7 separate regions of the Homo sapiens genome follow, and regions 1, 2, 3, 4, 5 and 7 are each reported to be linked to region 6. Evidence: microRNA targets listed by miRTarBase, many of them from high-throughput screens and not tested one by one. Region 6 holds a microRNA gene; each other region holds the end of a gene's coding sequence.
Evidence for each region. The annotated mature microRNA hsa-miR-6895-5p reads CAGGGCCAGGCACAGAGUAAG and lies in region 6 at 1,610-1,630, shown strand. An mRNA with a match to its seed (bases 2 to 7 or 8) in the 3' UTR can be bound and repressed. Matches are read on the target gene's strand: a 7mer-m8 pairs with bases 2 to 8, a 7mer-A1 pairs with bases 2 to 7 and ends in A, and an 8mer does both.

Region 1: miRTarBase lists TFCP2L1 as a target of hsa-miR-6895-5p. The part of its 3' UTR that is shown has no 7-base or 8-base seed match.
Region 2: the mRNA of PHYHIP is a reported target of hsa-miR-6895-5p. Seed matches in the 3' UTR shown: 7mer-m8 at 1,960-1,966.
Region 3: miRTarBase lists TNFAIP8L2 as a target of hsa-miR-6895-5p. Seed matches in the 3' UTR shown: 7mer-m8 at 857-863.
Region 4: miRTarBase lists TTYH3 as a target of hsa-miR-6895-5p. Seed matches in the 3' UTR shown: 7mer-m8 at 2,687-2,693.
Region 5: miRTarBase lists B4GALT2 as a target of hsa-miR-6895-5p. Seed matches in the 3' UTR shown: 7mer-m8 at 489-495.
Region 7: the mRNA of TOMM40L is a reported target of hsa-miR-6895-5p. Seed matches in the 3' UTR shown: 8mer at 2,047-2,054.

What each region holds. Positions count from the first base shown.
Region 1 is chr2:121,221,064-121,225,136 of GRCh38, forward strand. It overlaps TFCP2L1 (transcription factor CP2 like 1), which reads right to left. Exons shown (of 15, transcript NM_014553.3): 15 at 1-3,324. The coding sequence ends at 3,278. Among named protein-coding and RNA genes, the nearest start is that of TFCP2L1, 62 kb to the right of the region's middle.
Region 2 is chr8:22,217,841-22,221,913 of GRCh38, forward strand. It overlaps PHYHIP (phytanoyl-CoA 2-hydroxylase interacting protein), which reads right to left. Exons shown (of 5, transcript NM_014759.5): 5 at 1,863-4,047. The coding sequence ends at 3,513. Among named protein-coding and RNA genes, the nearest start is that of PHYHIP, 12 kb to the right of the region's middle. RefSeq lists an enhancer at 2,174-2,874.
Region 3 is chr1:151,158,781-151,162,853 of GRCh38, forward strand. It overlaps TNFAIP8L2 (TNF alpha induced protein 8 like 2), which reads left to right. Exons shown (of 2, transcript NM_024575.5): 2 at 1-969. The coding sequence ends at 472. All of the region lies in intron 1 of TNFAIP8L2-SCNM1 (TNFAIP8L2-SCNM1 readthrough), which reads left to right. LYSMD1 (LysM domain containing 1) reads right to left here. Exons shown (of 3, transcript NM_212551.5): 2 at 2,956-3,320; 3 at 968-2,240. The coding sequence ends at 2,102. Among named protein-coding and RNA genes, the nearest start is that of TNFAIP8L2-SCNM1, 4.2 kb to the left of the region's middle.
Region 4 is chr7:2,661,419-2,665,491 of GRCh38, forward strand. TTYH3 (tweety family member 3) reads left to right here. Exons shown (of 14, transcript NM_025250.3): 14 at 250-3,384. The coding sequence ends at 321. Among named protein-coding and RNA genes, the nearest start is that of AMZ1, 25 kb to the right of the region's middle. RefSeq lists an enhancer at 3,457-3,751.
Region 5 is chr1:43,990,163-43,994,228 of GRCh38, forward strand. It overlaps B4GALT2 (beta-1,4-galactosyltransferase 2), which reads left to right. Exons shown (of 7, transcript NM_003780.5): 7 at 136-1,006. The coding sequence ends at 286. CCDC24 (coiled-coil domain containing 24) reads left to right here and starts at 1,437. Exons shown (of 9, transcript NM_152499.4): 1 at 1,437-1,584; 2 at 1,685-1,842; 3 at 2,050-2,225; 4 at 2,361-2,477; 5 at 3,725-3,802. The coding sequence starts at 1,717. RefSeq lists silencers at 1,591-1,700, 1,841-1,890.
Region 6 is chrX:53,193,020-53,197,092 of GRCh38, reverse strand. It overlaps MIR6895 (microRNA 6895), which reads left to right and starts at 1,605; the gene lies at 1,605-1,682. KDM5C (lysine demethylase 5C) reads left to right here. Exons shown (of 26, transcript NM_004187.5): 19 at 49-407; 20 at 1,039-1,177; 21 at 1,683-1,862; 22 at 2,025-2,162; 23 at 2,355-2,954; 24 at 3,242-3,320; 25 at 3,457-3,656; 26 at 3,761-4,073.
Region 7 is chr1:161,228,354-161,232,353 of GRCh38, forward strand. TOMM40L (translocase of outer mitochondrial membrane 40 like) reads left to right here. Exons shown (of 10, transcript NM_032174.6): 8 at 75-151; 9 at 362-464; 10 at 603-2,393. The coding sequence ends at 742. NR1I3 (nuclear receptor subfamily 1 group I member 3) reads right to left here. Exons shown (of 9, transcript NM_005122.5): 6 at 2,976-3,121; 7 at 2,764-2,880; 8 at 2,460-2,565; 9 at 1,316-1,573. The coding sequence ends at 1,444. Among named protein-coding and RNA genes, the nearest start is that of MIR5187, 3.2 kb to the left of the region's middle.

The DNA of each region.
Region 1 (4,073 bases), not on the chromosome of region 6:
TGACATCACTTGGGTACAGTGATGACAGACAGCCTAAGGGGCTGGACCTCAGAAGACTAAAGGTCTAGTCCTGGTCCTTCCACTAATGGGCTATGGTGACCCTGAGCACATTATTCCACTTCTAGGTGATTCAGTTTCCTCATGACTCATAACAGGAAATCATTGGTCTCAACCTTCCTCCAAGGACTAGTGTGTGGAGCTAGAACATGCACCAAGGAAGACTGGGGAACATCAGAGAGAGATAGGACTCAGTACCGTTGACTCAGGTAAAGAGGGAGACAGCAAGAACAGAGTAGAAAGGCAGCATAAAACTGGTGGAACCAAACACAGACTAAGTAAAAAAAAAAAAAAGGTAAGCTTCCCAACGACACCATGTCCCAGGAAAGAAGATCCAGTAAGAAGCAGAGGCCTTTAGCAAGGATGCCAAGACAATTCCGTGGAGAAAGGATATTTTTCTCAATAATCAGCAGTGGGACAAGTGGAGATCCACAAGCAAAAGAATGAAGCTGGACCCCTACATCACATCATATATAAAAATATACTCGAAATGGATCAAAGACCATTGTGAGAACTAAAAGTATAGTTCTTAGAAGAAAACACAGGCATTAATCTTCTTGACCTTGGATTAGGCAATGGTTTTCTAGATATGGCACCAAAAGCACAAGTGACAATAGAAAAAAAATACGTATCTTGGAAATCATCAAAGTTAAAAAGTTTTGTGTCTCAAAGGACACCAACAAGAAACTGAAAACAATCCACAGAAGGGGAGAACATTTTTACCAGTCATATACCTGATAAAAGACTGGCGTCTAGAATATACAAATAGCTCACCCAACTCAATAATAAAAAGAAGGCTCATCCCTGGTAGTCTAGTGGTTAGGAAAACAGAAAACTTAAAAAAAAAAAGACAACTCAATTAAAAATAGGCAAAGGACCTGGATAGACCTTTCTCCAAAGAAATACGCATGGCCCGTAAGCACAGGAAAAGACACTCAGCATCAGTTGCCATCAGGGGAATGCAAATCAAAACCACAAGATAGCATTTCATACTCATTAGGATGCTAAAAGCAAAAAGACAGATAATAGCAAGTGTTGATGAGGATGTAGACAAATTGAAACCTGGATACATTGCTGGTGGGAATGTAAAATGGTACAGCTGCTATAGAAAACAGTCTGGCAGTTTCTCAAAAAGTTAAAACACGGAGTTACTGTAAGACCTAGCAATTCCACTCCTATGTATATTGCTAAAAGAAATGAAAACATATGTCCACACAAAATCTTGTAGAAATATGTTCATAGCAGCATCATTCAGAGTAGCCAAAAAGTAAAAACACACAAATGTCCATCAACTGATGAATCAATAAACAAATGTGGTCTATCTATACAATGAAGTATTATTCAGCAATACAAAAGAATGAAGTACTGATACATCCTCAACTTGGACGGCCCTAGAAAACATTCAGTGGAAGAAGCCAGTCACAAAAGAGATATCACATGATTCCAGATATATGAAATGTCCAGAGTAGGTTAATCTTACATAGAAAGTAGATTCATGGCTGCCTTGGACTGCAGGAGTTAGGAAAGCAGGAGTGACAGACCAAGGGTACGGGGTTTTACTGGGGGTGATGAAAATGTACCAACGTTGACTGTAATTCTGTGAATTGATGGTGGTTCTGTGAATACAATTGGACACTAGCAATGGGTAAACTGAATGGCATGTGAATGACATCTCAATAAAGCTGTTAGTTAACCCACTCCCCGCTTCTCCTCTAAAGAAGGAAGAGGAATCAGGAGCCTGTCCTCACTCTGTTCTGTAGGAATGCCACGGCTATTACCCAACATAATGACTAACAGAGCCCCTTTTATTCCGAGATGTCCTGGTTTATATGATAAATTTATATCGCTACCCTATCACTATGTGCTACCATGCAGGTGACTTTGCCCCTCTGAGCCTTGGTTTCCTCATCTATAAAACAAGTTCTCCCCATTGTAGACCCTGTTTTATTCTGGTAGTCCTTCAGTCTAGCACTTCATTCCACAGAAGCTCCATTTAGAAGCTATGACATCCCATTCAGGTGGTCAGAGGGTTCCCCATGAACCTAAATTAACCAAGAGCTGAAGCCCTGGGCCAGTAGAGATCACTGGATCCCAGGAACCAGAGGCAAGACAAAGACGAATTTCTGAGTCTACCACAGTTACTGACACTCAAATTTCCCGATAGTTAGGCCATTAAGAAAGATGATGCACCCATTCTGATGCAGGCAAAATATCCTAAACATAGCCTCTACAAACAAAGATAAACATGTAAGTGAGGGGCACTCAGAGAAAACACATCGCTCCTGTGGCAAGTTTAGCAGCGGTTCAACAAGGTCTTCTCTAACTTTCTATAAGTCCATCCAAGAGGGCCTGGTATTGTGGTGGTCAAGGTCATCTGATGACACCTAGGAATGGAATACTCATTCCTAATCCTCCTTACCCGTGATTGCCAGGAAATAAAATAGTCTTTTTCTATTACCATCCCCCTAACCTCCCCACAAAGGGCCTCAGAACTAATGTCTCTGAGAAAGGCCGTGCACATACATTGTGGCATCTACCATGCCAATGCGCCAGTGCAGAGACAGGAGCACATCTTTGGGTTCCGCAGCAGCAGATCCTTAGAAACAACGTAGAGAAGAAAGAGGTAGAAGGCACAGAATAGCCCCACTCCCATCAATTCATCCAAGAACAGGAAAGGCGGATGCTCACCAGGGTCACTGAGAAGGGAAGCAAACCTGAAACAGGAGAATGAGGGCAAACTGCTCCCATCAAGTCGGCAGTGCTGGCCATGCAGCCAACTCCCAGAGGAGGAGGTAAAGGTACCAGCTTCCAGGGTGAAGCAGAGCTTTCTCTGGAGGCAGGAGAGTGGTCAGAAGGGACCAATACAGGCAGCACCAAGATACCCAATCAGCTTCCAACTAAGGGATGAGGGATTTCAGAGCAGACGTCTCCACTGTTTGCCCTTTTAGAACGTCAGGGTTGGACCAATAGAAAAGAACAAGGAACCATTCAAAATCTGGAGGCCAAGAGGAAGGGAGAAAGGAGCCACTGGCTTTCTGTACACCGTACTTGGTGTCCACAGGCTTCTGCTGGTTGGTGCTCTGTAGCTTTCACAGACTGGGCAGGGTCCCTCCTGGCCTCAGCTTGCCTGGTGAGGCCACAGCTTACAGTGGGGCAATGTCTACATCCACGGGGATCCACAGGGCTGGGAGCTGGAGACAGGTATGAGGTCCACTGCTGCTCAGAGTCCACATTTCAGGATGATGTGGTAGCCATCATTGCTCTCAGCTGCAAGAGAGAAACACTGGGTGTATTTCACAGGAAAAAAGGTGCAGTGCCACAGTATTGGGGAGTCCCAAAAGGCACGCTGTTAGGGTATCAGCAAAGACCACCAAAATAGGGCTGCATACAGCAAAGCGTGCTGGCAGAAGCAGGGATCTCACATGCCCTGACATCTGCCTCGTTTAGTGTCTTTTTAACAATAGGTCTTTCTACCATAGCCCCAGGCCCAAGGATGAAAACCTACGTTCCAAGGAGGATTTGGACAACTGTGGTTCTCAGGGATATTATGGCCCCCAAGGCCCCAAAGACACTTGGTGGTGGCTGGGCGTGGTGGCTCACGCCTGTAATCCCAGCACTTTGGGAGGCCAAGGCAGGCGGATCTCGAGGTCAGGAGATCAAGACCATCCTGGCTAACACAGTGAAACCCCGTCTCTACTAAAAAAATACAAAAAAATTAGCCGGGCCTGGTGGCGGGCGCCTGTAGTCCCAGCTACTCGGGAGGCTGAGGCAGGAGAATGGTGTGAACCCGGGAGGCGGAGCTTGCAGTGAGCTGAGATCGCGCCATTGCCCTCCAGCCTGGGTGACAGAGCAAGACTCCATCAAAAAAAAAAAAAAAAAGACACTCGGTGGCTAGATCCACGGGACAAGGTGGGAAGTGGCCTCATCATGGTCCAGGGTCTATGAGTCGGTCAGAGGGCTTTTGTTCTGACATATCCTATACATGCACCCCAACCCTTAGGAAGGCCACAGCAGAT
Region 2 (4,073 bases), not on the chromosome of region 6:
CTACTCCAGCAGAGGACCATATCAATAAGTCCATAACAATAGATGCAGGCCAGGTGCAGTGACTCAAGCCTGTAATCCCAGCACTTTGGGAGGCAGGAGGATCACTTAAGCCCAGGAGTTTGAGACCAGCCTGGGCAACACAGGGAAACTCCATCTCTACAAAATAAAAAATGTTAAAAAACCTAGCTGGGCATGGTGGTGTACGCCTGTGGTCCCAACTACTCTGGAGGCTGAGGTGGGAGGATCACTTGGGCCCCAGAGGTTGAGGCTGCAGTGAACCATGATCGTGCCACTGCACTCCAGTCTGGACAACAGAGGAAGACCCTGTCTCAAGAAATAAAAATAATGGCCAGGCACAGTGGCTCGCTCATGCCTGTAATCCCAGCACTTTGGGAGGCTGAGGTGGGTGGATCACTTGAGGTCAGGGGTTCGAGACCAGCCTGGCCAACATGGTGAAAGCTCATCTCTATTAAAAATACAAAAATTATCCAGGCATGGTGGCATGTACCTGTAGTCCCAGCTACGTGGGAGGCTGAGGCTGGAGAATTGCTTGAACCTGGGAGGTGGAAGTTACACTGAGCCAAGATCGTGCCACTGCACTCCAGCCTGGGTGACAGAGCGAGGCTCCATCTCAAAAATAATAATGATAATGATAATAATAAAATGATAGATGCAGAGGTGACTGGGATCTATAAACGGGAGCTGTGTTGGGGAGCGGGGACACTCAGGCACTTGGGACAGGGACATTTGGTGGCATCTGGGTCTGGAGCAATGGCAAGCTGCTGTAGTAGGAAGGCTTCAAAAGCTCCAAACGGGGCCTCCAGATGCTGTGAGTCCTCTCCTAGGACGCCCCATGTGGGAGGCCCCATATGGGAAACACTGGGTGGGACCAAAAGACTCCAAAGTCCCTTCCAAGCTGGAGACTCAGCTCTACATCCTGAGCCCCGCCTCCCACAATGGACGAGGTGCTCCCTTGGAGCTGATTTCAGGTCGCCTGTCCTGGGGGCATTCCCACCTGAGCTCCTCTGTGGTTTGCAGAACTCACCCATACCATCACTGGCCCAAAGGGATGGGGTGCTATGGTCTGAATGTTTGTGTCCCCCCTAAATCCTAGGTTGACTTTTTTTTTTTTTTTTTTTTTTTTTTTTTGAGATGGAGTCTCACTCTGTAACCCAGGCTGGAGTGCAATGGCGCAATCTCGGCTTGCTGCAACCTCCGCCTCCTAGGTTCAAGCAATTCTCCTGCCTCAGGCTCCTCAGTAGCTAGGATTACAGGCATGCACCACCACGCCCAGCTAATTTTGTATTTTTAGTAGAGACAGGGTTTCACCATATTGGCCAGGCTGGTCTTGAACCCCTGACCTCCACTGATCCACCTGCCTCAGCCTCCCAAAATGCTGGGATTACAGGCGTGAGCCACCTCACCCAGCTCTAGGTGGAAATTCTAACCCCAAGGTGATAGTTTTAGGAAGCAGGGCCTTGGAAGGCGATGAGGTCATGAGGGTGGGGCCACATGAATGGGATTAGTGCCTTTATGAAAGGGGCCCAAGATGGCCCAGAGCAGTGGCTCATGCCTGTAATCCCAAGCACCTTGGGAGGCCAAGCAGGTGGGAGGATCACTTGAGGCCAGGAGTTTGAGGCCAGCCTGGGCAACAAGGTGAAATTCCCCATGTCTACAAAAAAAAAAAAGGAGGGGCAAGAGAGCTTGCTAGTCCCTTTCACCCTGTGAGGACACAGTGAAAAGAGCCATCTGTGAAGCAGGCCCTCACCAGACACCGCTTCTGCCAGCACCTTGATCTATGAGAAATGAATCTGCGGTTTCTGAGCCACCCAATGTGTGGTATTTTGTTACAGCAGCTCAAATGGACTGAGACGAGCAGGGCCCTCAGGCCATGGTGGTTTATTGATGCACGTCGCAAGCACAGCACAGGCAGGCGGACCCCAGCCCCGGGGGGACATGAGGGCCAGGGGAGGGCAGTGGGCCACCCCCACAGCAATGCTGTCAGCACAGGGGGAAGGAAAGGGCCTGGGCCATGTTCTCTCCTTCTCCACACCTCTCCCCAAGCCTCCAGGCCTCCTGACTCATCCCAGAGAGACAGCTGGCCACACAACTGCCCCTGGCTACAGATAGGTGACCGTTGTCCACCTGTCCCTCACCGAGGTATGGCCTTGCCGGCCCGCTGCTGCTTCCGTCCTTCATCACGAAAATCCAGCTGCTCATCCATCATCTCTGTCACCTCTGAGAAAGTCACTGTGAGGCTGCACTCTCCTCTGCCTGATGTCACCTCCATCATCCCCCAAACAGCCGGCTGCTGCTGTCAGCCCCTCCCACAGGCTCTCTGTTTGCTTTGTTGATTGTAGGGAGTCCACCCTCGTGACCTGTGTGACAGTAGGAATGAGGCAAAAACACAAGGAGGCCCGGGAAGGACTTCACCAAGAACTCCCCGGGGAGGGGCTCCCGGCCAGCAGGGTGGCAGGAGAGCAGACAGAGCCAGTGGGGAGGGGAGAGGCGGAGCAGCAGAGGGTCCACAGTCCAGGTCACGCATGGGCACAGTACAGTCATGGCACCATGGCAGAGCGAGTGAGCAAAGTGCACAGCTGGGCGGGGTGCCGGGGCCCGCGGGACAGCTTACAGGTCTCACGTTCCATGCCAGGCCCCAGCAGAGCATGAGGCGGCCCACTCCCAGCTGAGGAAGGGGCACCTCTGGGTCTCAGGGGTCTCCTCCCCCTCCTCAACCCCAGTGGCTGCTGTCTCAGACCCCTGCACTCTAAGCAAGGAGAAGGTATGCTGGGGTATGGAAGGAAGGAACATCCGACAGCCTGACGCCCCCAGTGCCAAGAGAAGAAAGAGAGTTCCTTTCTAGAGAGCAGGGGGAGTGTCCCGGTGGGCAGGTGGAGAAGGAGGGACAGCTCTCCCATGCAGGAAGAGGGTTCTTTGGGGCAAGGAGCAGCCAGGGAGTCACGGTGGTGCAGGAGACTATTTATAGAAGGAAGGGATCCAGGCCTGGAGTGGGAAGCCCCAGAGACCCAGCTCAGCAGGGAGGGGGCATTCTGTGGTTGGCCCTGAGTGGGGTGAGTGGGACTAAGAAAGATCGCCCCACAGCTCTCTGCATCTCTTCTGGAGGCAGCCAAGCTACCCATGGGCTTTGGCCCAGAGGGGCTTCCCTGGGAGAGCCCAGGAGGTGGGCAGGTCTTTGGGAGATAGAGACCTGGACGAGGCAAAGAACAGTAGGACAAGGAAACCAGAGGAAAGGGGAAGTTCTCCAGAAGTCCAGCCCAGCTGCCAACTACAGAGGCTGAGAAGCCTTTCCATGTCCACCAGGCTGGGTGTGGGCCACACTTACCAAGAGGACCACCGTCTGTTGCCTCCAATGCCAAGGGGCGAGGGGAGGGCAGCTGGGCAGAGTGGAGGGAGCAGGGGGGCAGGAGAGAGAAAGCCAGCTCCCTGAACCTGGGCTACCCACCTCCACCTTCCGCTCATCTCTCCCTCGCCCCCCAGCTCCCCAGGAGTCCCTAGCGGCCCACGCTGATGTTGCAGGTCTTGCAGCTGGGGTCCTTCTTGGCATCGGCAGTAGACAGACTCATGAGCTGGTGCCCACTGATCTCCCCCAGGGTGCCCAGGGACAGGTCGACGGGCTCAGTGTAGATGATCTCCAGGATGAGGTCCTGGGCGTGGCGGAAGACCAGCTCCCCATCCTCCACGCTGCAGGTCAGGAACTTGTTGCAAGCAATGTCCAGGAGGGGCAGGCGGTCGCGGCAGAAGCGGTCCCCCAGGGAGCCTTTGGGCGCCAGCACCAGGATGGCGTAGTGGTAGGCCGTGTACATGCAGTAGAAGTCCGCAAAGTAGAGGTTGGTGCTGGGATTGAAGAGGCGCTGAGCTGGGATCTGGAAGCGCCAGCGGCCGTAGGGGGAGTCCTGCGGGGGCTGGCCCGTGTTGAACTCCGTGTTGCAGCTGAAGAAGACCCCGTGGAGCATACCGCTGGTGGGGGAGCCGTGGCTGCCACTGTTGTCCTTCAGGTAAGGCTGCAGCATGTTCCCGCAGTGGGTCCTGCCCACCCCAGGGAGACACACCAA
Region 3 (4,073 bases), not on the chromosome of region 6:
TCTCTTCATAGATGAGACAAGCAGTGAGGTGCTAGATGAGCTCTACCGTGTGTCCAAGGAGTACACGCACAGCCGGCCCCAGGCCCAGCGCGTGATCAAGGACCTGATCAAAGTGGCCATCAAGGTGGCTGTGCTGCACCGCAATGGCTCCTTTGGCCCCAGTGAGCTGGCCCTGGCTACCCGCTTTCGCCAGAAGCTGCGGCAGGGTGCCATGACGGCACTTAGCTTTGGTGAGGTAGACTTCACCTTCGAGGCTGCTGTTCTGGCTGGCCTGCTGACCGAGTGCCGGGATGTGCTGCTAGAGTTGGTGGAACACCACCTCACGCCCAAGTCACATGGCCGCATCCGCCACGTGTTTGATCACTTCTCTGACCCAGGTCTGCTCACGGCCCTCTATGGGCCTGACTTCACTCAGCACCTTGGCAAGATCTGTGACGGACTCAGGAAGCTGCTAGACGAAGGGAAGCTCTGAGAGCCCTGAGCCTAGCACATTCCACCTTGACAAAATGGTTGACTGAGAAAACACAGATAATGGGCTTCCTAACCCTGCTCACCTGGCACTAACACTTTTCAATCTTCAGGCTTCATTCCTTCCCAAGAGTGCTTTTGACTCTGAGACCAGCCCACCCCCAAACAGCTAGTGGAGAAGGAGCAATGCTGAGGGGTGAGGCCTCTCTCCCACTCCAGCCCCAGGACAGGAAACAGAACTGCCTGAAAAAGGTGAAGTGAAACTTGGATCTCTATTTCTCCCATAAGGGACTTCTGAAACAGGGAAGCCCCCTCCCATGTGAACCAAGGAAAGGAGGCACAGCCCAGAGAACCCCTTTGGGGATACTAAAGACAGAAGAGGGGAAGGTGGCCCTTAGAGACAGAGCTTGGACAGATGCCAGAGGCTCTGTTCCAGAGTGCAGGAAGAAGGGGCTAGGGCAGGGGAGATTCTCATAGGGGAAATAAAACTACTAAAATATGCACAGGGCTCAATGTTTAATCTGTCCAGCTTCGTATACCTTATAATCATCACAGAAGAAAGGAGGTATATAAACATTACTTATCTCACCTCTCATCATTTCCAAACAGGAGACTGAGGCAGATTTCCATTATTACTGAGGTTCCCTTACCTACTTCTGTTTAAGAAACAAAACAACTGTACCATAGATCAGTGCTACAAATCGCAAATAAATATGCAGTGAGGAGGAAGGCATAGAGAGAGAGGGTCTGGAGGGGAGGGGGTGTAACAAAGAGACTCCCACAACTGGCTTCCTCTTCAAACCCCAAGGAAAGCCTTCTTCCATCTGTTCCCCTCACCACAGGCTGAGCAGAACAGGTCAGAAGGGTGAACTGGTAGAATGGAGAGTTCAGGTCCCTACAGTGCTGCTTTTTCTCAGAGTCAAGAATTGTGAAAAAGTTACAGGGAATTGGTTTGTCAAGACTGAGCCCATTCAACAGGAATGGGGTACCAAAAAAAAAAAAAAAAAGAATCAGCCCAAATCTGTCACTTTGAGATTGGAGAAAAGGCCAACAGTCATCCATTCTCTGTGGTGGGCTATATCACCGATTGCCTCATCCTCAATAACATGTTTGGCTAACAAGGTGGGGAAAGTGGAGAACCAGCAGTCACTGGCTCACTGTTCCCGGGTTCTCCTCACCCCAGGGCTATAGAAATTCCATTTTTCAGCTAAGAGTGGGAAGAAATAAAATATAGCAAATAAATATTACTTCAATATTAGCACCAAATAAATTATGTCACATAGTTGGAGATGAGGAAGAAGCTGAGGGGGAGTCTCTGCTTCCCTGTTCTAAGGCCAGGGAAAGGTAAAAAGGATAGGAAAGGCAACAAGGATATAAAAAGAGCCTTTTGAGTCTAAAGGACTCAACTCTAGATTCAGCCCAAGAACTGGGAAAGGTCCAGTTCCCATTCCCTAATCTTGCCAATAAAACTGCCCCAGGCCAAGGAATTTTTGGCAGACAAGGAGGCTGGGGAGGATGGCTGGAGTGGAGGGAGGCAGGCTCATAAGCCATGTTCTTGAGCCTCACCTCAGGCTCCTCTCCCCCTGAAGTTTCTCTTTCAACATCTTGCTTCTCTCAGTCAGTTCTGGGGACATCAGAGTTTGAAGATTTCATCCTCCTGGTCCCGTAGTGTCCGGGTCCGAGAGGTACGGGTCAGCGGCACAGGACCTAGGACTGCTCGTTGCTGCATCCAAGGGGAGCTCAGGTGGAGACCTGCATCCTCCCCAGGTACCCTGCAATTGAGGAAAGGGGGGAAAGAGTGACAGATCAAGGGAAGAACCTGACAATGGGCCAAGTGAGAGGTACATGGAAAGCTATCTTCTAATACATAAGCTGGTTGCTTCAAGACAGTCTCAGTACCCTCTAGATAAATCCTAACCCTAATGCTCCTTCATGGATGATCAGAGCAGTAAAAACAGTTAACTGTCAGCTGGCCGCTGTGGCTCACGCCTGTAATTCCAGCACTTTGGGAGGCCGAGGCTGGCGGATCACGAGGTCAGGAGATTGAGATCATCCTGGCTAACATGGTGAAACCCCGCCTCTACTAAAAATACAAAATATTAGCCGGGCGTGGTGGCGGGCGCCTGTAGTCCCAGCTACTCGGGAGGCTGAGGCAGGAGAATGGCGTGAACCTGGGAGGCGGAGCTTGCAGTGAGCCAAGATCGCGCCACTGCACTCCAGCCTGGGCAACAGAGCAAGACCCCGTCTCAAAAAAAAAAAAAAATAGTTAACTGTCTGACTCCAATAAGAACACAGAACCCAGTTTTCCACTGCCTCTACCCAGGCCAGCAGCCATCACCTCTGCTCATTATCTTGGGGCCACATGGGGGAAAGGTATCACCTTGCCTCTGTTGGCACTGTCCTTACTTACTTGTGTTTGTGGTTAGGTAAGACAGGAATGATGGAGGAGTCTAGGGAGGAACTTATAAGGAACCATTCAAGACTCACCCATTTTCCCCTTTTTTCAGCTTCTGAGCAGCAGCCTTCTTGGACAGGCTGATCTGTGAATCAAGCTTCTTAAGGAAATCAGAGGCAGAGAGGTCATGGATGGGCGTGGGGGTTTCCTGGCCAGGTGTGGGGAGGACTTCACCATTGGCACGTCCTGCTCCTGTCTCTTGTTTCTTCCTCTCAGTTGAGTGTGGCCAAACTTCACTGTTACTTGGGTGTACTTTTTCCTCTCCATCTTTCTCTTCCTCAGAGTCCAAACCATTGAACAGGTCTCTGGGCTCTGTCAGGATGGGGATGTAGAGGGTTTTCTTCAGGAAGATGGAGTCATTAGTATAAAGGCGGTTTGCACGTTTAATCTGTTCCATCTTAAAAAAAAAAGTCACCAAAATTAAGGACAGTAATAATGATCAATCTTACATCTTGAGCTTTTTAAAGTGACTGTACAGAGTCTTCTTTGATTCCATAACAACCAAGCTAAAGTACAAAGGGCTGACATTATTTCTATTCTATAGATGAGTGGTTTTCACACTTTTTGGTCTTAGGGCCCCCTTACATTTTAAAAAATTATTGTGCAAGCCAGGCGCAATGTCTGATGCCTATAATTCCAGCTACTCAGGAGGCTGAGGAGGGAGGATAGCTTGAGCCCGGGAATTAGAGTCCAGCCTGAGTAATATAGTGAGACGCCATTTCTAAAAATTAAAAAATTAAAAATAAATGAATAAATAAATTAATGAATAAATAAAAATGAAGGAACTGAGGCTCAGAGAGGTTAAGCTACTTTCCTAAAATTATCTATCAAGTTAATGACAGAGCTAGAATGACAATCCTGGGTCTTTTCACTGCTTCTGAGAATGCTTTTCACACTATACTATTAACAATGTCATTAATAAATATTTATTTTGACCTATTTATTCATCACTGGACATAGTGACTGGCATCACCATCTATCTGCCTGGCCTCCCAAGGTAGAAACATCAATGTCATCCTTAACTAATACTTGCCTTTCATCACCATACCAAGTGGTCAACAAAACTGCTTCAAAAATCTCTCTCACATCTGGTCTCACCTTCCTACTGCCAAAGATTTAAAATAGACCCTCAGTATTTCTCATCTGGGGT
Region 4 (4,073 bases), not on the chromosome of region 6:
CCCCTGTCCTGAGCCTGGAGAGTTCGGGGGCTGCCCCTCCCTCAGCCTCAGCCAGACCTAGAGCGCAGGGGCCCCCAGCCAGCGGCCCCTCCTTAGCCCCTCCCTATAGGCTCTGTCAGGGCACCCTGTACTGTCCCATTCTGCCCCCAGGGCTGTTGGCTCAGCCAAGTGAGGACCACGCGGAAGGCGCCCCTGGCTGCGTGCGCCATGCAGGGGCCCTGCTGATGCCTCCCCCTTGTCTCCCTCCAGTACACCTCCAGCATGAGAGCCAAATACCTCGCCACGAGCCAGCCTCGCCCTGACTCCAGCGGCAGCCACTAGACCGCGCCCGGCAGCCACCCACCCCACGTGCCAACTTCCCCTCCCCGTGCCAGCACTGCCGCTTCCACCTGGGCCACCCACCGGACCCTCGCACGCCGTGCCAGGCCTGCCCCAGACGCGTCTGCAGGCCGCTTGCCCTCCTGTCCCCTCCCCGCAGGGGCACAGTGGAGACGCAGGGGCTCTGGGCCCGTACCGCCAACTCGGGTCACACCTGAACGCTGCTGCCAGCCGATGCCCCAGCCCTGCACGCCACCCACTATCCCGGCACGCTCCCTCTGCAGATGGTCGCCGCACCTACAAGCCCTGGCCGCACCCAACCTGTGTTGTTGCCGCCCGGCCCTTCCCTCCACAGCTCTCCTTCCTCCCGCCCGGCACTTCTGTGGACCCCTTCTTAGTTCACAGGCACGGCTGGGGCCGCTCTGTGCTGGCGCCTGCTGGCCACTGAGGGACAGGGACACGTGCCACCTGCTCATCTCTGCCCTGAGGTCACCCCGTGGTCCCTCCACGTGCCCATCTCTCTGCAGTGCCCTCCTCGCCTGTGCAGCCCGCCCACCCACAGGCTCACCCCTCCTGCCGGCTGCCAGAGGCCCCCTCCAGCAGGGCCTCTCTCCGTTGCCCCAGCTTCACTCTCTCCCTCAGCACCTGCCCTGCTGGAGGCCCCAGCCCTCCGTGGACAGCAGGGGCCACGTGGAGCCCGGGCCGCTCACCCGCCACCCAGTGCTGGCCGCCTTCTTGGTGCCAAACCCCCTTCCCCCACCCAGAGACTGGGCAGCTGTGTCTGGTTCGTTCTTTGCACTAACCACATTTGTCATCTCTAGGGCAGGCTGGGGCTGCGGGCTGAGGGGGACCGCTGGCACCCCCCTTCCCTCCCTTCTTGGTTCCATTTCCATCCATGACAGGTACAGCATCCCAGGAGCCCGGCCTGAGGGGCTGGACCCGAGCCGGCTGTGAACATCCCTCAGCCCCTGCTGTCCCCCCTTGGGACTAACCACTAACCTCACCCCCAAACTCCACGGGTGCCCCTAGCTGGCCCAGAGCCGGCAGTGTGAGCCCAAGTCCGGGCTGGAGCCGAGGCCGGAGCAGCTGTCTGGGAGTCAAGGCTGCAGTAGCGTTTCTTCATGGGGTGCTCCAGGGGGTGCCACAGACCGACAGGCAGCCCAAGGGCCTGGACACCCCTCCCCAGGCAGGTGCTGCCCCAGGAGGACTGTCCTCGGGAATGAACCTCCCGCGGGCTTTGGACTGAGGTCCCTGTGGCCTCGGTCTCCTCCCCATGAAGTGGGAGCGAGGCTCCCCAATGGTGCTTTTGGCTTTAGTGTACGATGTTTGCTGTGCTTCCCGCCGTGGAGGGCAGAGCCACCCCACATCAGGATCGGACGTGCTACCCCTCCCGGTCCCGGCCCTGGCCCAGCCAGCCCAGCCCTCGAGGCTCGATGCCTGTGCCAAGGCCAGGGGCAGCCAGAGGGCAGCTGGATGGCCACGTGCAGGGGTCAAGGCTGGGCCCTGCAGTGGGGCGGGCCGCCAGCCCCAGCAGTTTACAGACGCATGGCTCTTCCTCCCAGAGCAGCCGGCAGCTACCTGGACCGGAAATGTCCTCATCCCCTCCCTGGGGCCAGGCTCTGCCCTGGCCTTCCTCTGTGAACCCCTCCTTTCTTTGTGCTGGTGTCTGGGACCAAAAAGGGGGAATATGGGAGGGCAGAGTGGGGAGGGGAGTCCATGGGCCTGGGGCCCCAAGCCGGGGCGTCTGAGCTCCCCAGGCATGACCAAACCTCAGTGGAGGGGCCTCTGCTTCAGGCCCCGCCTGGCTGACATTCTGAGCCCCCCTCGGAGGCCCCGCCACAGCCAACCTGCCCAGTCTTTCCTCTGGGCTTGACCCGCCAGGGGAGTTCTCCAGGCCTAGGGCCAGGAGAGAGGCCCTGGCACCCTGGCGTGGGTGCCCGCCAAACGCCCTGCGACCGCTCAGAAGCACAAATGCTGTCCATGGCCGTGAGGCTGCCTGCCAGGTGAATGGACATAGCGTGAGAGGCGGTGAGGCCAGGGCTTCCAGCCTCGTGCTGTCTCGGGACTCCTGACCGTGGTGTGCGTGTGTGCCCGTCTGTGACTTTCTACTCACCAAGGTTGAAGAAAGGAAACGGGGAAAATCAAAAGGGGTTCAAACCCCACCTCAGTAGGTGGAGGGGAGCGCCTGCCATTGGTTGTATTTTTGTTCTGAGTTTTCGGTGCCGTGTTCCTAACTACTCCATCCCATGACCTCGCCACACCTACTGGGGCATCTGGCTGGTGCCTGCTGCCATGGCCAGCCCCCACTCTCACCCTGCACAGGGGGTCTTGCAGCCCCCAGGCCCACAGCCTCGTTGGGAGGACAGGGTGGCCCTGGGGACAAGAGGGAGGAGCCCAGGGGCTTACCTCACTGAGAGTGCTCCCCAGCAGGCATCCACTACCCCAGGGCCCCCCACATGTCATGGCAAGGTTGGTAGTGAATGGGCCTGGTTGGGAGCAGCCCCTGGCCCATTGCCCACCCACCCATCTCACTATGCAATTCGAGTTCCAAGCAACATTTGCTCCTGCCCTGGGGCCAGCTCTGCCCCAGCCCTGAGAGGGGTGGTGAGGCAGCCCCCTGGACCCCAGAACCCCAGACAAGGGGGCAGGCGGGGGACCAGGGCCTCTCCTGTGGGATCTTTGTTTTGTGTTTAACCATAATGGTTGTGTACTGAACCACTTCATATTTGTTATATATAATATATATATATATAATCTCCTTAAGACTCAGCCTCCTGGTTTACCCCCCCGGCCTGGGCATCTGACCTCCCCCACCCCAGTGTGATTTAACATCCAGGAACTGAGGCCTGAACCATTTTGCATTTCCCCCTCCTCCAGCCTCTGTAGGGCCATGGCTGTATGTACTGTCGCTGTGTTTTTTTGTTTTTTTAGAACTGGGTTTGGGGGCTGATTTTTATTTCTTTGGGGGCTTTTTTTCTTGGCAAATACTAAAAATCTCGTCAATGTAATTTCTGTGGTTTCTATTCAGCTTGGGTTTCATGTTTTAAAATAAATTTTAAAAAGCAAGCCTCTCTTCCTGAGCTGCTTTGGCTCCTGGCTGGGCGCTGGTAGGGAGTCCACGGCTCCAGGCAGGGGCATTGGGGGAACAGGGGGACACTGAGGGTGGGGCCGACCAGGTCAGCTCCGAGGGGTCGGCTGGGCGGGGCCTCTTGTGGTTGCGGGCGGGGCCTCTCGGGGTTGTGGGCGGGTCTTCAGGGGTGGGCGGGGCCTCGGAGTGACTGGGCGGGGCGCCGGGGACAGGCTCTCCAGGGATGGGGTGGGCGGGGCGCCGGGGAAGGCTTTCCAGGGTTGGGGTGGGCAGGGCTTCTGGAATGAGTGGACGAAGGCCTTGCAAAATGGGTGGCCGAGGCCGGGCGCGGTGGCTCACGCCTTTAATCCCAGCACTTTGGGAGGCCGAGGTGGGCGGATCACGAGGTCAGGAGATCGAGACCATCCTGGCTAACACAGTGAAACCCCATCTCTACTAAAAATACAAAAAATTAGCTGGGCGTGGTGGCGGGCGCCTGTAGTCCCAGCTACTCGGGAGGCTGAGGCAGGAGAATGGCGTGAACCCGGGAGGCGGAGCTTGCAGTGAGCTGAGATCACGCCGCTGCACTCCAGCCTGGGCGACAGAGCGAGACGCCATCTCAAAAAAAAACAAAAAAATGGGTGGGCGAGGCGCCGGGAACGAGATCTCGGGGCATGGAGTAGGAGGA
Region 5 (4,066 bases), not on the chromosome of region 6:
TGGAAACCCTGTTTTTAAGGTTCCCTGGGGTCCCCTTGGCCAAAAGGGGGTCCATTTAGTTGGTTGGGGGGTGTAGGATTTTATTTTTAGTTTACAGTTGTTAGCCCTGATGTGGACCATTTCCATCCTATCTAGGTTTACCAAGATTCAAAACACGAAGCTGACCATGAAGCGGGACGGCATTGGGTCAGTGCGGTACCAGGTCTTGGAGGTGTCTCGGCAACCACTCTTCACCAATATCACAGTGGACATTGGGCGGCCTCCGTCGTGGCCCCCTCGGGGCTGACACTAATGGACAGAGGCTCTCGGTGCCGAAGATTGCCTGCCAGAGGACTGACCACAGCCTGGCTGGCAGCTGCTCTGTGGAGGACCTCCAGGACTGAGACTGGGCTCTGTTTTCCAAGGGTCTTCACTAGGCCCCCTAGCTACACCTGGAAGTTTCAGAACCCACTTTGGGGGGCCTCCTGCCTGGGCAGGCTCTTCAAGTGTGGCCCTCTTTGGAGTCAACCCTCCTTCCCGACCCCCTCCCCCTAGCCCAGCCCCAGTCACTGTCAGGGTCGGGCCAGCCCCTGCACTGCCTCGCAGAGTGGCCTGGGCTAGGTCACTCCACCTCTCTGTGCCTCAGTTTCCCCCCCTTGAGTCCCCTAGGGCCTGGAAGGGTGGGAGGTATGTCTAGGGGGCAGTGTCTCTTCCAGGGGGAATTCTCAGCTCTTGGGAACCCCCTTGCTCCCAGGGGAGGGGAAACCTTTTTCATTCAACATTGTAGGGGGCAAGCTTTGGTGCGCCCCCTGCTGAGGAGCAGCCCCAGGAGGGGACCAGAGGGGATGCTGTGTCGCTGCCTGGGATCTTGGGGTTGGCCTTTGCATGGGAGGCAGGTGGGGCTTGGATCAGTAAGTCTGGTTCCCGCCTCCCTGTCTGAGAGAGGAGGCAGGAGCCCCAGGGCCGGCTTGTGTTTGTACATTGCACAGAAACTTGTGTGGGTGCTTTAGTAAAAAACGTGAATGGAGCAGCTCCCTTGTCTGTTTGGGGGTGGGGGTCGGGTCCCTGAACGTGGTTACCCTGAGTGTGTTGTGGTGGAAGGGCACTTGGGGAACCTGGCCCAACAAGTAAACCTGACCCGGGCCATCCTGGTTCTCCAAGCGCTGCCACTCCCTAGGCTTTCACTGGCCTTAAGGGGAAGTTTGTCCTTGCACTGCTTCCGGGACAGTGGAGGCGACGAAGTAATAAACCCGTGGACCCAGATTTCTCAGGTCTTAACACGTTCCCTGAGGCCTAAAGGTGCCCAGGGCCGAGCCCAAAGTGCTTGGGTCAGGGCTCGGTGGAGCGCCGAGGTGAGTCTGAACTCCCAGCCGGCACGCGCCGCCCGCCGGACCAAACACGGGAGGGGGCGGGGCCCTAGAGTCGCGGCGTGGTTTCCCGGGTGATGGCCACGCGGAAGAGGTGGGGCTAGGGCCCTGGTTCCCACTGCCTGGTTTCTGGGCCCCCGGCATCCGAGTCGGCCAAAAGCCGGGCAGAAGAGAGCGCCAAGGACTGGCAGTTCCGGAACGGGCAATCCCAGCCGAGGGGACCAGCGGCAGAGCACGGGTGGGGCTTGGGAGAGGGCGGGGCCCATAGAGGGGCGGGGTTTGGTGAGCGTTGCCGGCGGGCCCGCGGTACCTCCCGCACTCTGACCTGCGGCCCGTAGGTCCGAGCCGGGGACGGCGGCGTCGGTGGGTCATGCTCCGGCACTCCCCCTCGCTGTGGGAGCTGGTGGAGGAGCACGTTCCGCTCCGGGAGCGACGCGAAGTGAAGAGGATTCTGGGGGAGGCGGCGGTGGACCTGAGCCTGGAGCTGCGGGCGGAGGTGGGGAGAGGGAAGGTGGGCCACGCCCCTGGCCTGCCCCACGACTCGGGTGATTTCCCACCTCTGCGGGTCCCTGGCCCTGCCGGGTAACTCCCGAGATCCTATCCTGGTCTCCCCTTTGACTCCGCCCTCTCCCTCACTCCCCCAGCCCCCACCATTCCGGACACTCCCCTCCCCAGTCGCAAGGTATCCCAGCTCTCCTTGCAGGTGGCGATGTTACGGGCACTGCTCCAAGAGGCTCGATCCTCTCAAGCCCCCAGCTCCCGCCCCATCTCTGACCCCTCTTCTCTTCTGGCACCACCGCCTCTCCTAAAGGACCTCTTGCGCCAGGAGCTCCGGCAGTTGCTCCAGGGTCTCCGCCACAAAGCCATCTGTGAGGGCAGGTGGGAGCCTCAGGCCTGGGCCCTTTCCCTAGATACCAGGTGGGCTAGCGCTGCCCCTAACAAGGAGCCAGGGTTGCCTTTTCTGTGGTTTCCAGAAAGGAGCCTCTCAGCTTCCTTCCTGTGCACCTTCTGCAGGGACCAGGCCCAAGCTTGGGTCCAGTATAGCCCCAGGGTCCTGCACTTTGCCTTGGAGGAGCCCAGGTGTGATTTGCCAGAACAGGAGATATTCCAGATGAGAGGTGGTGGGCCCAGGTAAGGTGATGGTAGGAGAGAGGGATCTGTCCCTGCTTGGCAGAGGGCCCTAGCCCACTGGTGGGTTGCACCTGGCTCCATGCAGGAGATTCCAGTCACGGGCTGGGCACTTCCACCGCCACTTGTGATAGAGATTATCAGCCCATGAGGGCTACTGAAACCCAGAGGAAACACCTGCCTAGCCTGGGGACAGGCAAAGCTTCCTGGAGAAAGTGGTTTGATCTGCGTGTTGTAGTATGAGGAGCAGTTTTCAGGGAGATGAAAGAGAAGAGCTTTGTAGGAAGAGGGAAGAAAGGAAGCCATGTCCAGCAGGCGGTTGTTCCTCTGGCCTAGAGAACAGGAGTGAGGGCTGGGCTAGGGAGGCAGGGAGAGCTGAAGAGGATGGTCACAAATGGTATTTACAGCTGGGACTGAATGAGATAAAATATTCATAAGTGGATGGCAGCAACTTCTTATTCTAATCCTCACACAGCCTGAGGAGGTGGGCAAAATCTCCATTTTGCACAAGAGGAAATTAAAGGCCGGGCATAGTGGCTCATGCCTGTAATCCCAGCACTTTGGGAGGCTGAGGCGGGAGGATGGCTTGAGGCCAGGAGTTTGAGATCAGCCTGGGCAATACAGGGAGACCCCATCTTTACAAAAAGTGAAAAAAAAAATAGTCAGGTGAGGTGGCGCATGCCTGTATTCCCAGCTACTTGGGAGGCTGAGGTGGGATAATTGCTTGAGCTCAGGAATTCGGGGCTGCAGTGAGCTATGATTGCACCTGTGCACTCCAACCTGGGTGACAAAGACCCTGTCTCTAAGAAAAAAAAAAAAGAAGCCTGGGCAACATAGTGAGACCCCATCTGTGCAAAAAAATTGAACAGGCGTGGTGGCACGCACCTGTAGTCCCAGCTACTCAGGAGGCTGATGTGGGAAGAGCACTTGAGCCCGGGATGTCAAGGCTGCAGTGAGCCAAGATGGTGCTACTGCACTCCAGCCTGGGCAACAGAGCACAATCTTGTCTCAAAAAAAAAAAAAAAAAAGGAAAAGAAACTAAAGCTCAGAAGCGATAAGTGATTTGCCTGAAGTCACACACAATGAAGGGTGGCAGAGCTCATTTGCAAACCTAGGCTCCCAAACTCTTACTCTTTGCACTATATTATATTGCCTTTGTGAGAAAAGAAACAGTTGCCTAGAAGTGATATTTGGGTCCTGAAGGCCTGGGGTGAGCAACATGCGGAGAGTGATAGTGACTTCATTGCCAGCAGCGGTCACAGAGATCTCAGCATCATCAAGGACCAACTGAACGTGTCCAACATTGACCAGGTGGCCAGACACCTGAGGTGAGGCCCAGGGGCACCTGCATGTGTATAGGCAGGGGTGGAGACAAGGATGGATCTTGAGGTGCTGGGATTGTGAGACAGGAGGTGGGTAGTATACTTGGCGGGGAGGCCCATGTGCGTAAGGCTGAGAGGTGGAAAGAGCTGGCTGCTATAGAGCTAGTGAGGTTGCTTTCAGGAAGCAGCCAAGTACAGATGCCACGGCCGAGCATGATGGTGCATGCCTATAATCCCAGCAATTTGGGAGGCCGAGGCAAGAGGGTCATT
Region 6 (4,073 bases):
TCAGTGGGCCCAGCTGAGGAGTTTGTTCTTCATCCTGTGTCCTGGTAGGGTGTTCTGGAACAGGTGGAGGCCTACCAGGCTGAGGCTCGTGAGGCCCTGGCCTCACTGCCCTCCAGTCCAGGGCTACTGCAGTCCCTGTTGGAGAGGGGGCGGCAGCTGGGGGTGGAGGTGCCTGAGGCCCAGCAGCTCCAGCGGCAGGTGGAACAGGCGCGATGGCTGGATGAGGTGAAACGCACACTGGCCCCCTCAGCCCGAAGGGGCACCTTGGCTGTCATGCGAGGACTGTTGGTCGCGGGTGCCAGTGTAGCCCCTAGCCCTGCTGTGGATAAAGCCCAGGCCGAGCTGCAGGAACTGCTGACCATTGCTGAACGCTGGGAGGAGAAAGCCCACCTCTGCCTGGAGGCCAGGTAGGTCCAGCTGCTGCTTCCCTTCCCTGCCCTATTCCAAACATCAAAGTTGAGTGGAGACCCAGAAGAGGATGCCCATGGGTGGCCTTAGGTATCACGCTCCTGTGTTACTGTATTGACTCTCCCCTCTTTTGTTGTCTATCTTGTCGTTTTTTTAAAAAACAACTCTGTATACTTAAAGGCAAAGAGAGGCTGATGGAGAAGCAGAAATGGACAGATAGAGATTATCTAGAAGACTAGCCCTACAGGCTAATGTGCGCATACCCAGAAGCACAAGTGACAGGCAGATGGGCAGATGTTGGTAGAAAGACCCCACACAGGGCAGTTGACAAACTGCAGCAACAGATTACACAATACAGGTTGTATATGTAGGCATTGCTAGCAGGCCAGCAGACTGGCAGACAAACAGAGGTGCAAGAGCTGTGGCAGAAGGGATGAAGTTGGGTGCATGCAGTCTTGGGGAAGCAGGGACTGGCAGCTACCCTTAGGTGGAATACAAGCAAGTAGGCCCAAGTGACAGCAGGAATAACAGACACCCAAGGGGCCCATGCAGATATATCTGGTGGTCAGGCTGGGCTTCTGGTCAGGCAGACCACATCAGACTGAGCGTTCTTTTTTTCCTTACCTTTAGGCAGAAGCATCCACCAGCCACACTTGAGGCCATAATCCGTGAAGCGGAAAACATCCCTGTTCACCTGCCCAACATCCAGGCTCTCAAGGAGGCTCTTGCTAAGGCCCGGGCCTGGATTGCTGATGTTGATGAGATCCAAGTGAGGACCCTGCCACTCCCACCCCAGGCCTTCAGTCCAGCTGGGAAGAGATGGCATATACACTGGGATGTGCTGGGTTGCTGGGATGGGTTGGGTTGGCTGGAGAGAGGAAGGGGGCATGGCATGTAGTCAGGAGGCAAGATGTGCCTGATGAGCAGGGTGAGAGGAAGAGTGTGAGGCTGGCCTGAAGGAAGAGAGGGCACTGGTTAGGATGAGATTGGTGGGCCAGGGAAGCAGGTGGTATGGGACTGAGCAGGGCAGGGGCATGGAGGAGAGGAGAAGAGGCAAACCACAACAGAAGGCTGACTAGATATTTGGGGCTGAGCCAGTCAGTAGATGCCGGTGTTGTGGGAGAGAGCCAAGTGGTTGTTCCTTAGGATGACACCTATTTTTTTAATCCCTCAAGACTGAGCCCAGTTCATCTTTCCAGCTCAGGGCCAGGCACAGAGTAAGCATCAATAGCATTGGCAAGTTGAACTGAGCTGTCTCTCGCCCTTGGCCTTAGAATGGTGACCACTACCCCTGCCTGGATGACTTGGAGGGCCTAGTAGCTGTGGGCCGGGACCTACCTGTGGGGCTGGAGGAGCTGAGACAGCTAGAGCTACAGGTACTGACAGCGCACTCCTGGAGGGAGAAGGCCTCCAAGACCTTCCTCAAGAAAAATTCTTGCTACACGCTGCTGGAGGTGAGGCCTGGGACCTTGACCTACAGCGTCTCTTAACGCCTGCCCTGGCTTCTGTGAGATGGCTCATGAGATAACATGGGTTTTGTAGGGGCACCAGGGAGGGAAGGAGGCGGGGGATGTAAGGGAAGCCCAGTCATTCCCTCTCTTGTCTGCCTGCCCCAGGTTCTCTGCCCATGTGCAGATGCCGGCTCAGACAGCACCAAGCGCAGCCGGTGGATGGAGAAGGAGCTGGGGTTGTACAAATCTGACACAGAGCTGCTGGGGCTGTCTGCGCAGGACCTCAGGGACCCAGGCTCTGTGGTAAGGAGCTTCGACACAGATGGGGAGAAGGGCTTGGTGATGATAGAGTGTCTGAGCTGGGTGGCCATGAGCAGACCGCTTGTCCCCTGAGCCTCAGTTCTCCTGGTTTGGGAGTGGGGGTGTTAAGGGGGGGCCCAGAGAAGGGAAGGGGTAGGCTGCTGACCCACTTTGCTCCTGTCCTGGGTATGGCAGATCGTGGCCTTCAAGGAGGGGGAACAGAAGGAGAAGGAGGGTATCCTGCAGCTGCGTCGCACCAATTCGGCCAAGCCCAGTCCACTGGCATCATCGAGCACGGCCTCCTCTACAACCTCTATCTGTGTGTGTGGGCAGGTGCTGGCTGGGGCGGGAGCTCTGCAGTGTGACCTGTGTCAGGACTGGTTCCATGGGCGGTGTGTGTCAGTGCCTCGCCTCCTCAGCTCTCCGAGGCCCAATCCCACCTCATCCCCACTGCTGGCCTGGTGGGAATGGGACACCAAATTCCTGTGTCCACTGTGTATGCGCTCAAGGCGCCCGCGCCTGGAGACCATCCTGGCACTGCTGGTAGCCCTGCAGAGACTGCCTGTGCGGCTGCCCGAGGGCGAGGCCCTGCAGTGCCTCACAGAGAGGGCCATCAGCTGGCAAGGCCGCGCCAGGCAGGCTCTGGCCTCTGAAGATGTGACTGCTCTTTTGGGACGGCTGGCTGAGCTCCGCCAACGGCTACAGGCTGAACCTAGACCTGAGGAGCCTCCTAACTACCCTGCAGCCCCTGCTTCTGACCCCCTCAGAGAGGGCAGTGGCAAGGATATGCCTAAGGTGAGCTACTCAGCCCAGCTCTTGTCCTCAGATTCTTGTCTCCTAGCCCCTACCCCAGTTTAGGCTCGGCCCTGCCCCTTGTTCTCCAATTTTCAGTTTTCTTTGGACCAGCCTTCCTACTCCATTCTGCATCTGTCCAGATTCCTAGACTCTGCTCCCTGCTGGCAGCCTGTGTCTTCCCTCCTCCTCCAGAAGGCGGAGGGTCTCAAGTTTGGGGTTGGCGGAGGAGGAATAGGGCCTGGTTCTTCACTTCAGTTGCCCCTACCTATTCTTGCTCTCCTCCGCAGGTCCAGGGCTTACTGGAGAATGGAGACAGTGTGACCAGTCCTGAGAAGGTAGCCCCGGAGGAGGGCTCAGGTAAGAGAGGTAGGTCTAGGTGTGGTGTGGGTAGGCTGTTGACTGCACATCACCATAGTGACCCATGTAGTCCTCAGCTCTGTTGTAGTGGTGGGGATAAGACCAAGGGCAGCCTCTAATGCCGCTTGTTCCTGCAACCTCCTAGATCTGGAGCTGCTGTCCTCGCTGTTGCCACAGTTGACTGGCCCTGTGTTGGAACTGCCTGAGGCAACCCGGGCCCCCTTGGAGGAGCTCATGATGGAGGGGGACCTGCTCGAGGTGACCCTGGATGAGAACCACAGCATATGGCAGCTGCTGCAGGCTGGACAGCCCCCAGACCTGGAGAGGATCCGCACACTTCTGGAGGTGAGGAGAGGGGTCATGGGCCGGGCCAGGAGGTCAGGCCGAGTAGGGAGCCCAGGCCTGACCACTGGCCCACAACCTGTCTTTCTGCCTGTCTGTAATCACAGCTGGAGAAGGCAGAGCGTCACGGGAGTCGGGCTCGGGGCCGGGCCCTGGAGAGGCGGCGGCGGCGGAAGGTGGATCGGGGTGGGGAGGGCGATGACCCAGCCCGAGAGGAGCTAGAGCCAAAGAGGGTACGGAGCTCAGGGCCAGAGGCTGAGGAGGTCCAGGAGGAGGAAGAGCTGGAGGAGGAGACTGGGGGTGAGGGCCCCCCTGCACCCATCCCCACCACTGGCAGCCCCAGCACCCAGGAGAACCAGAATGGCTTGGAACCGGCGGAAGGGACCACTTCAGGCCCCTCGGCCCCTTTCTCCACTCTGA
Region 7 (4,000 bases), not on the chromosome of region 6:
GACTTTTCTGGGGTTCCTGGCCTGTGTCATACTACAGTTAACACTCCTTCCCCTCTGTACTTTGGATTTTACAGCTGTACACTGGGTAGCTACATTGAATGTGGGATCAGGCGGGGCCCATGCAAGTTACTACCACAGGGCAAATGAACAGGTGAGACCTCTGATCTCATTCCCTCCTTGTCAGCAAGTCAGTCATGAACTTCTGTTCATCTGGACCTCTATCGCCCTGCTGACCTATTTTTCTTCCTACCACGCTGTGTATATATTTACATGCATGCCTCCATTCTGCTGATTCCCCATCAGGACCCTTCTGGTCTTCACTGATACTGATCTCTCTCTCATCCTTGCCCATGGTTCTCAGGTTCAGGTTGGAGTGGAGTTTGAGGCAAACACAAGGCTACAAGACACAACATTCTCCTTTGGTTACCACCTGACTCTGCCCCAGGCCAACATGGTATTTAGAGGTGAGGGTTATTGGGAGACATTTGGCTATCCTGAGGAATGGGGGATGCAGAGGAGGGAGGGAAGCTCGACCTTACTTCTGGTGACTATTTCCTCCAATCCCTGTTAAATAATCTAGTGGGTATTCTCTCCCCCAACAGGCTTGGTGGATAGTAACTGGTGTGTAGGTGCTGTGCTGGAGAAGAAGATGCCCCCTCTGCCTGTCACCCTAGCCCTTGGAGCCTTCCTCAATCACTGGCGCAACAGATTCCATTGTGGCTTCAGCATCACTGTGGGCTGAGGTTGTCCAGAGCCAGCCCCCACAGCAGCTGGAACCTCTGAGTCAGGTGCCCTAGGGCCAAAGACTAGGCCCCTCTTCAGAGCCCACCTTGCTGGGTGATCTCTAGGACCCAGGAGCAGAGTGGTGGACAGGACCATGCCCTCCTCAGAACTGGAGCTGCCACAGGGGCAGTTGATGAGGCAGAGGTTTGAGGATCCCCCCTCTGCTACCAGCCCCAGTATCACCTTCCCCATGCTCTTGTGGCTGTGGACTAAGGGAGAAGGATTAAGGGGTATGGCTGAATTCCCCCGGCACCCCTTGCCCTCAGGCTTCCTTCTTCCTTTCCCTTTGGTTAATCCTGCATGGGATTAGCTGACCATCCTGTTTTCCATCCCAGAGCCTCCCAAGGCTGGGAAAGTAGGGCTGAAGGGCTAGATGTTTGGTCTCAGGAAGTGGGGCCCACCCATTCCCAGAAGGAGCTTCTTTACCTCTTAGCCCTGAGGTTTCCTCCTTCCCATCTTCTGTGCTTCCAGAGAACAACTTTGTTCCTATGGTCACCCCCACTATCCCCATGACCGCATGAAGAGGCAGTTATTGCTTTAGTCTTTCATTGCAACCACTGGGCTCCCTTTGAACCCGGCCCAATCTTTGGTCCCAGCATTTTCCCACTCCAGTGTATCCAGGGTGTTCCAGGTGAGCTGGGGAAGGAAGTGAGCATGGCCTCAGCTGCAGATCTCCTGGAGCAGCGGCATCATGGCAGACAGGCCCTGGATGTGCTGGATTTGGTACCCGTAGGCCTCATTAATGCTCCGGAGCTCAGCCAGCAGGCCTAGCAACTTCGCATACAGAAACCTTTGGAGGAAGTAGTGGGGTTGCCAGGAAAACAGGAGGGAAATAAGGCAGTTGGGAGTCTTGTCTCTAGGCCCTGATCCCCTGAACTATTCCTCAGTGAAGCCAGGTCTGAACATTAGAGAAAATCATGCTCTGGTATGACAGACTATCAGAGGTTCCAAAGGTCCTCCAGGGGGCCTCGGTCTGACACTGTCTTCTCTCACCATGCTCAGTTTTTTCTGAACCCAGAGCTCTGAGAGCCGAGTGTGAAGAAAGCTCCAGACTTGGCCAGAACTCCAACCATGTGGAATCTGAGGGCCTGGCCTTCTAGAGCAGGTTCTAGAAGGTGGATGTGTTCTATGGTATAAAGCATCCCCTTTCTGGCCAAACTAGCTCTTGGAGGAACGAGCAAAACAGAAGCGGTGCATACCTCAGAGCCTGGATAAATCACAGACTATTGAACCTGGAACTGGCTTTGACCATGAAACTGTGAATGGCCCTAACTTCAAGGGAAATGAGAAATCGAAGGAATTGGCCCAATGGCGAGGAGAGGAAAGGCCAAGGGAAGAGAAAAGTCTGCGTTAGTCTGGAGAAGTTGGACTAGTGAGGTAATGGATGTCATCAATCTCAGGAATGCTATTACCCAGAGCCTCTGAGCTACTACTTTGCATCTGTACTGAATAAAAAAAAAATCTGGAAAAAGTGAGATGAAACAGCAGTATCCAAATACAGCAATTTGGATGCTGAAACGATGTGAGACAGGGATGGCCAGGGGGAAGGACTAGACCCCACGATACCTGAATTCCCTAAGGAAAGGACAGTAAAAAAACATTCCTCCCAAGCTCAATGTTTCACCAACCCCTTCCTGCCCTGGTGTGGCCTCCAAGCCCTCAGTGTCCCACCGTACCGATCCCGGGGCCTTCGCTGCTGGCCCTTGATGTAGCTTTGCAGAGTCAGTGCCATCTCCTCTTGCAGCTGATCAATCTCATCTCTCTGGGTAACTCCAGGTCGGTCTGTAAGATAGGGAGCTGGGAAGGACAAGTTGGGTGGCAGGGGTGGGCCTGCGTGGTGCCCCGGGGACTGAGGCTGGGATAGACCTAGTCTGCAGGTTTGATAGCTAGGCTAGAAGGCCTGGGTGGATGGACTCAAGGAGCTGAGTATTTGGGCAGAGGTGGTGCAGCAAAAGGCTCTGGGCTTTGGGAGGTGCTCACCAGGAGAGAAGAGGGCCATGGCAGCCAAGAGCACATACTCAGGCTCTTGGAGCTGCAGTTTTCGTAGTGTTCCATGGAAGTGAAAGAGCAACTCCAAAAACTCTACCTGGAACCCCACTGTGGGAGATACTAGGATTAGGAGCCTCTAGGTCACCTGACCACATCCTGTACCATGAGGACACATGCCCCCTATTGCTCTAGCACCATCTCACCACGGGCTCCATCTTCAATTGTGTAGCGAAGAGGCCCGCAGAGGAAGTTTTGTGTTTGGAGACAGAAAGTGGTATTGAGTACGATGTGACAGATTTCCACAGCTGCTCCCTTGAGAAGGGAGATCTGGTCTTCAATGGGCAGGGAACTGTGGAAAGCAGGAAACAAGGACACTTTTCAATTTTTTTTTTTCTGAGACAGAGTCTCACTGTCACCCTGGCTGGAGTGCAGTGGCGTGATCTCTGCTCACTGTAACCTCTGCCTCCTGGGTTCAAGCAATTCTCCTGCCTCAGCCTCCCAAGTAGCTTGGATTACAGGCGTGTGCCACCATGCCTGGCTGATTTTTTGTATTTTTAGTAGAGACGGGTTTTCACCATGTTGGCCAGGCTGGTCTCCAACTACTGACCTCAGGTGATCCACCTGCCTTGACCTCTCAAAGTGCTGGGATTACAGGCATGAGCCACTGCACCCGGCCCACTTTTTAATTTTTTGTTTGTTTATATGTTTTTATTTTTTGTAAAGATGGAGTCTTACTATGTTGCCCAGGGTGGTCTCGAACTCCTAGGCTCAAGCAGTCCTCCTGCCTTGGCCTTCCAAAGTGCTGGGATTATAGGTGTGAGCCACTGTGCCCAGCCGACAAGGGCACCTTATTATTATTCTTATTAATTAATTTATTTTTGAGACAGAGTGTTGCTCTGTCACCCAGGCTGGATGTAGTGGCCTGATCTCGGCTACAGCAAACCTCCGCCTCCTGGGTTCAAGTGATTCTTCTGCCTCAGCCTCCTGAGAAGCTGGGATTATAGGCGCCCACCACCACACCCAGCTAAGTTTTGTATTTTTAGTAGAGACGGATTTCACCATGTTGGCCAGGCTGGTCTCAAATTCCTGAGCTCAAGTGATCCACCCACCTTGGCCTCTCAAAGTGCTGGGATTACAGGCATGAGCCACCGTGCCTGGCCTATTATTATTATTTTTAGCTTTCATTTTTTGAGACAGAGTCTCACTCTGTCACCCAGGCTGGAATGCA